Linked DNA regions of Homo sapiens. The protein of the gene in region 1 purifies or fractionates together with the protein of each later gene. This does not show direct contact. Each region holds a gene or a part of one and is shown in the gene's direction. Other genes may lie near its edges.

Region 1 (3,853 bases):
CTCCCCACTTTGTCTCTGCCTGTCCTCGTTCAGGCACCCCGATGCTTCCCAAGTGTTAAGGCAGGGGCAAGTTTCCTGCCAGGAAACTCAAGCTGGTGGGGAAGCTGGTTATCCATCTTGATCTCACTTTTTCCAGTATAGAAATGATGTTTCCATGCCCTTGGGTACCGGAAAGATTGCAGGGAGAGTCCTCATGGATATGGAAGTCTAATTCTCTTATTATCTGTATGGAGTTTTTTGTTGGTTTTTCACTTTCCTGTGGCTCCAGGAATTGTCTTCTTCTCATATTTGAATTCTAGGATATTGCTGGGGATAATCACAGCACTAATATTTTGTTGTTGTTTTCTGTGGGGGACATTAAAGCCAACTTACTTTTATGCCATCATTTTGGAGCCAGAAGTCTCCTAAATGTCTTTATTTTTATTTTTCAGGTATGATGACCAAACATAAAAAGTGTTTTATAATTGTTGGTGTTTTAATAACAACTAATATTATTACTCTGATAGGTAAGTTACATCCTTCATTTTATTTTTCATGGCTTTCTATGTGTGATCCTATTCCTTTCTGTCTCAGTCATGATCTTTTCTCAGTATCTCATTATCTTCCCATTATACATGATAACATTTAATTGGTACAAATGAATAAATTTTATTAATTACATGACCTATGTAAGGCATCAGAGATACCAAAATTATTGTGGTAAAATTATTCACCCTGATAATCTCACTTCTATTCAACACTTTCTTGCCTATGTTAATCACTATCTTGACTTCTATTGCTATAGCTTAGTTTTGCCTACTAAAAAATTTTATATAAATATAATCAAATTTAAATACATATAAAATACAATATACAATTTGCATGTATCATAAATACAGTCATGCAATTTGCATGTATCTTTGTATCTTTTCCCTTTTATTCAACATTATGCTTGTGTGATTTTTCAATGTCATCATAGGTAGCAGAAGTTCATTAACTCACTATTATGGAAAAAGGTTGAAATTTTTTTTATAAAAAGACCCAGATAGTAAATATTTTATGCTTTGTTAGCCATACAGTCTCTGCTGCAACTACTTAATTTTTCATAGAAACACAGTCATAGAAAATGCATAGACATTGACCATGGCTGTGTGTCAATAAAATTGAACATGGAAATGTAAATATTATAAAATTTTATATGTCACAAAATATTGTTCATTTTTAATTATTTTGATTACTTTATTTCTTTTTAAAATGTAAAAATTATTTTTACCTGGTGGTTGTACAAAAACAGAAGGTGAGCTGAGTTGGCCTCAGGCTGTATTAGCGGATGTTTAGTATAGTGCATTCACTGCTATGTATCACTTTTGATGAACATTTGGATCGTGTTACATTTTGACTATTGCAAATTGGGTGGTTGTGAACAACTGTATAATTTTATATTTTTGTCTTTTAATGAATACTGGAAATAACTTGAGATATAAGAAGAATTATTAAGCACAGAATACGCATAGATTAGCTTAAGTGTATTTTACCAAAAATGTAGATAATCTCAGCAGAAGTATATGAGAATTCCAATTGCTCCATGCCATGTCAATACTTTATTGTTGGTTTTATCAATTTTTGCCATTCCAGTGAGTGCATGTTGTTACCCGATTTGGGCTTTAATTGACGTTTTTCTGATGATCAATACTGTTCAGTACCTTCATAATTGTTGTTTATTTAGGTGTAATATTTTGTGATGGGAATGTTTCAATACTTTCCCCATATTTTAGTAAGTTAGCTCTCTTTTTCTGCTTGGTTCATAAGAGTTGTTTAATATTCTAGATGAGACTCTTTGTAGTTTATAGGTATTGCAAATATCTTCTTTAACTATGAAGCTGAAGTTTACCCTCTGTGTCATGTCTTTCAATCGACAGAGCTTCTGAATTTTAAAGTAGTGTAATTGTGTCTTTCTCTATTGTCACTATATTTTTCATTCTAAGAAATTCACTTTACTTCAAAGACATAAAAATATTTTTGTAGGGTTTCTATTTTCCTTTCACTTTCCAAAATATAGTCCTCTTGAAGTTGATTTTTATAAATTTTAGGAGATAGATATTAGGATGCATTATTTCCCATTTAGTTAATCTTTCAACCTGAAATAACTTATTAAAAAGACTATACTTTCCCTACTCAACTGCAGTTGGTCTTTGTCATCAATCAACTGTGTAGGTGAAGGTCATTTTTGCTAAAATTTTATTACATTAATTTACTCTATTTTATCTATCTTTGTATCTATATCATTCTGTCTCAATACTGTTGGTTTATAATTAAGTCTTGATGTCTGGTTGTTTAAATGTTTTAAAAGTTTTATTTTTATTCTTCAAGTTTACCTGGAGCATTTTAGATCCTTTAAGCTGCCATATAAATTATCTGTAATTTTGATTGAGATTGCATTAAACCATAGTCAATTTTCATGGAATCATTATCTTAATATTGAATCATACATTTAAAATATTGATTCGGTGTTCCGTAATTTCTGCCAGCAATTTTTTAGTTTTCAGAATAGATTTCACACACATCCTTTTAAGAATTTTTTAAAGACTCAATGCGCTATAATGCAATTGTAACTAGCATAGAAGTATTTTCATTAACACTATTGTCCTATTTAGTCTCTTGCTGGCCTATAAAAATTATCTATATAAATTTAATATATACCTATATAAGCCTCATATAACAAATTTGCTATAGTTAACTATTCATTTTCATAAATTTTCTTCAGTTTCTTTTGCAAGTTCTATGTAAAAATTTACATTATCTGAAAATAATAATTGTTTTACCTATTCTGTTGGAAACCTTATGCCTTTTTTATTCATTGTATTCTCTTATTTTACTGGCTATAACTTCCAGTATAAGGTTGAGTATAAGTAGTAACAGCTTACATGTTTGTCTCATTCTTAAATCAGTAAAATTTTTTTAATATTTCCCAATTTAGTAGTAGTATTTGCAGATATTCTTAATCAGATTAAAGGTGTTTTATTTACTTCCCTTTAATTTAATTTAAAATATCAAATGCTTTATCTTGATCTATTGAGATACTTTCTTTTCTCTGCTAATATGTAGAACTACACAGATTTTGTAATATTGAGATAAGATAATCTTCAATTTCTGTGATAGATTCAACTTGATCATAACCTATTAACCTTTTAACATTCTTCAATTAAGCTGAATAGTATTTTAAGATATATGCACATATATCCTACGTCTTCATAAAAGATCTACCTATAGTTTCTCTTTCTTTCAATACTATTATCAGGTATTGATGTGATTATGATGGCTTCTAAAATTTGGTTGGAAAGTATTCCCTCCTATCCTATTTTCTGAAAGAGTGTGTATAACGTTGGTGTTATGCCTTTCCTAAACGATTAGAAGTATTTCTAATTGAAGCCATCTGGACAGGGAGATTTCTTTTTGTGCAATTTTTTAAGTTAAAGATTTAATTTTTTAACTAGATATAGTGTTATTTAGATATGCTGCTTTTATCTTGTCAGTTGTGTTAAATTGTGTTCTTCTAGAAATTTCTCTACTTTTTCATTCTTTGTGTTGCTAATTTGTGTTTTTATCTCTCACAGTTACATTTTTTAAAATCAGTTTTCCTAGTGGTCAATCCTGTTTTAGAGTATTCAACAAAAGTCATCTTATGACTTTAAACTTTTCTTCTATTTGGCATTAATTTTTTATTCAATTGATTTCTGTTCTTTTTGTTTTCTAAATTGTGTCTTTCTACTTTGGTTTTAATTTATCACTATTATTAACTTTGTAAGGTAGGATAATTATCTTTTCAAAAAGTCTTTCATCATTTCTAAAACATAATCTTAAGCCAATAAATTTT
Region 2 (3,500 bases), on another chromosome or scaffold:
TTCTTAAGTCCACATGATTCTGTTGAAGCCCTGCATAACTGTCACTCATCAATGTGCTCAGCAACCAGCTCTTGAGCACCTGTTCTCTGCAGGGACCTGCAGTGGGCTTGGGGCGCAGAGTGATGCGTAGCAACAGCCCTGCCCTCACAGCCTTCAGCGTCTGTGTGGGTAAAGGGACTCAAGTTGATTTTGGCCAGGGTGAGGCTGGGCACAGTAATCTTCAGGGAGAGAAATGATGTGTGTGAGTGTAAGTGTTCGCTGAATTTTCTACAAATTGAGGGAATACCCTTTAAAACTTTTTCTTTTTCTTTTTTGAGACAGAGTCTTGCTCTGTTGCCCAGGCTGGAGCACAGTTCACTGCACCCTCTGTCTCCTGGGCCCAAGCGATCCTTCCACCTCAGCCTCCCAAGTAGCTGGGATTGCAGGTGCACACCACCATGTTTGGATAATTTTTGTGTTTTGCGTAGAGACATCTCACCATGTTGCCCAGGCTGGTCTCGAACTCCTGGGCTCCAGTGATCCTCATGCCTTGGCTTCCCAGAGTGCTGGGTTACAAGTATGAGCCCCTGCCCTGGCCCTAGAACATTTTTAAAAACCTGTTTTGTTTGTTCATTAGGCTTCACTCTGACCTGGCCTGTTGTCGTAGAAACTATATTTGTGTAATTCTGTCAAAGCATACAATGGCTGAAGTGGGAGGGGTCCATGGTGGTGGACATTCTTCAATACCGTTCATGTAAAAGTGGCATAAAAACTAGCAGAATGCGATATCTCATCGTGTTCTGGCTTGAATGAATGAATAAAAGAAAATGAGTATGTAGAGGTAGAGGAAGCCGCTGGGATCCAGCGACACCTGTGGTTCAGCACACAGGTAACTCCTGCTCTCTGGTGATTTGTGTCCAGGTCTGCGTGGGCTGATCAACCTTGGGAACACATGCTTCATGAACTGCATCGTGCAGGCCCTGACCCACACGCCACTTCTGCGGGACTTCTTCCTGTCTGACAGGCACCGCTGTGAGATGCAGAGCCCCAGCTCCTGTCTGGTCTGTGAGATGTCCTCACTGTTTCAGGAGGTGAGCGCCATTGACTTCTGCAGGGGAACATTTCTGTTACTTTGTTTTCACCTTCAAAAAAAAAATTTAAGGTGGACCATGATAAAGGAAGATACATTTAGAACCTTTTGTAGTAAGTTAATGTTTAATATACATGTCTATTATGGAAAACACAGTTTTCCAAAAAGGGAAGACCTGGCGTGATTTTTGGGGACGCACTGCTGACTCAGAACAAGGAGAAGCCCTTTGAGAGGCTTGTGGCAGAGACTTCCCTGGTGGGTGACATTTGTCTCTAAAGACGGGTGATTCTCCCCCTTCCTCTTCCTCCATGGTCTACCTTCCTGGCTCAGAAAGGCACGCATGTGTCACCCTCCTGTGTCCTCCTGGTATGCGAGTCTCCTCCACCGCCAGGTCTCTCTAAGCATGCCCCATCAGAGCCTCTGTCCTCATGAGCTACGCGCTGCACGTTGGCTGTTCCTGTGGGCTGCACGTGTGGCGTTCCTGTCCACTTCTGTCCCCGGCATCAGAGCATGGCAGCGTTCAGAGCAAGGCGTTCACGGCTGCCGCCTCAGCCCTCACCGGCTCCGTGACCTAGACATGCTTCTCAGAGCTGAAGCAGCTCAGTTACCTCAACTAATAAGCAGGCTGGTGCCTGTTCTTCAGGTGCCTTGCACAGGAGCCAGCCAACAGCCCTGGCCTGTTCCCATTCGTAACCTCTGCGAGAGATGCAGCCACGCCAGCTCACTCATGTCTGTCTGGTCACTGGTCGCTTTTGTGGGACAGCCACAGAGTTGAGCAGTTGGACAGAGGCTATCCAACCTGCAAAGCTGAAATTATTTACTGTCCAAGCCTTTCAAAAACAGATTGCCAGCCTCTGGTCGAGCCTAACCGATTTCCTCAAAGTACCTGCAATGTGCCATAACTGCTGGGGACACGGCCCAAATAGGAGAAAGGAGGGTGCAGCTGGGAAGTTGGTGGGTGGTTGTATCACTGACTTTAGTGATAAGCTCACTTGTGTTAGATTGTTTTTAGACTCCGGCTTGTTAAGGTGTAAATTACAGTCACACCCACCTTCTAGCCTATAGATAGATGAGTTTCGACGAATGCATAGTTGTGTAACTGCTGCTACTCAAGATGAAGAACTGTTACCTCTCCGAACTCCCTCGTGCCCCTCCGAAGTCAACCCCCAGTCCCCAGACCCTGGTAGCTGCCGATCTGTCTTCGGTCCCTTGAGTGTCCTTTACCAGCGCATCATACGGATGGATGCATGCAGGAAGTAGCCTTTCTGAATCTGGCTGTCCCTACTTAATGTAATACTGGGTGGATTCACCCGTGTCTTGCGTGCATCCATGATGTGTGCTTTCGATGTCTGAGTTGGGTTCCATTATGTAGATGGGTTATGGTTTAGTTGTCTGTTTCCCAGTTCAGACACATTTGGGTGGTCTGTGGTTTTGGGTTTTTTGATGAGAAATAAAACTGCCCTGAATTCTGTATTTGCACAGGCAAGACCCCTCTGTGGGTTCTGACCTGGGGAGGAAGCCGTGGGATGGAAGGTGTGCTGCTGGGTCTGCGGCTGGAGTTGAGCTGTTGGAGAGGACTGGCTGGCAAGCCCTCAGCTAATTGCCATTAGCCTCAGAGGCAGAGAATCCTGTGGCTGATGCTGGTGAATTCTGCATAATCACAGTGATGTGCTTCCCTTTGCGGAGGTGCTGGTGTCCATGGGCCTGAGTGGTTTGGCTAGTGCTTTGAGGAAACTAGTATTGGGCAAATCGAGTCACTTTTATTTGCATGTGATCTCATAGTAGCAAGTCATAATTCATTTTTTAGGCTTATATGTGGAAAACTAGATGGTAGAAAGGAAAAAATTCATATGAGGACTCGAAAAGTCCAGTGAGCCCAGATAAAAATAGACTTTGCAAAAAGTAGAAAAGTAAAATCCAAACATTTGTGTCAAATGAGCCACAGCCAATGGTAGGCATCTGATAAAGGTTTTGATTGTGTGTACTCTGTGTTCAGAGTCTACATTTATTCCTGACAAGGTTTCCTTCCCCGCCCTCTGGCAGTTTTACTCTGGACACCGGTCCCCTCACATCCCGTATAAGTTGCTGCACCTGGTGTGGACCCACGCGAGGCACCTAGCAGGCTACGAGCAGCAGGACGCCCACGAGTTCCTCATCGCGGCCCTGGACGTGCTCCACCGACACTGCAAAGGTGGGCCCTGGGCTCTGCACCCTCCACCAGGGCAGGATGTTTTCCTTGAAGGGGAAGGAAGCAAAGCGAGTGTATGCACTCGTGCAAAAAGGGGCACAGGTGACACATTCCATTGTTTTGTCATCATAGCCCTTGTCGTCATTTGTTTCTGAAGTCACCATAACTAATGACCTCAGAGAGGCTCCTCCTAGTTTATTTTTAAGAGGCGAGGAAGTAGTTCCAGCAGTATGACAGGTCCTC

What was found. Proteins that work in one complex are often made in the same cells at the same time.
Region 2: the proteins of CLEC2B (region 1) and USP22 purify together in Homo sapiens (co-immunoprecipitation; 2 studies listed by BioGRID and IntAct, with this or other methods). This does not show direct contact.

Annotation. Positions count from the first base shown.
Region 1 is NC_000012.12:9,859,152-9,863,004, reverse strand, and holds part of CLEC2B (C-type lectin domain family 2 member B), read left to right. Parts: intron 1-431; 5' UTR 432-433; coding exon 434-506; intron 507-3,853. UniProt on the Homo sapiens protein: Membrane-bound protein expressed on myeloid cells which acts as a ligand to stimulate the activating receptor NKp80/KLRF1, expressed on the surface of natural killer (NK) cells.
Region 2 is NC_000017.11:21,015,512-21,019,011, reverse strand, and holds part of USP22 (ubiquitin carboxyl-terminal hydrolase 22), read left to right. Parts: intron 1-900; coding exon 901-1,070; intron 1,071-3,112; coding exon 3,113-3,260; intron 3,261-3,500. UniProt on the Homo sapiens protein: Deubiquitinase that plays a role in several cellular processes including transcriptional regulation, cell cycle progression or innate immunity.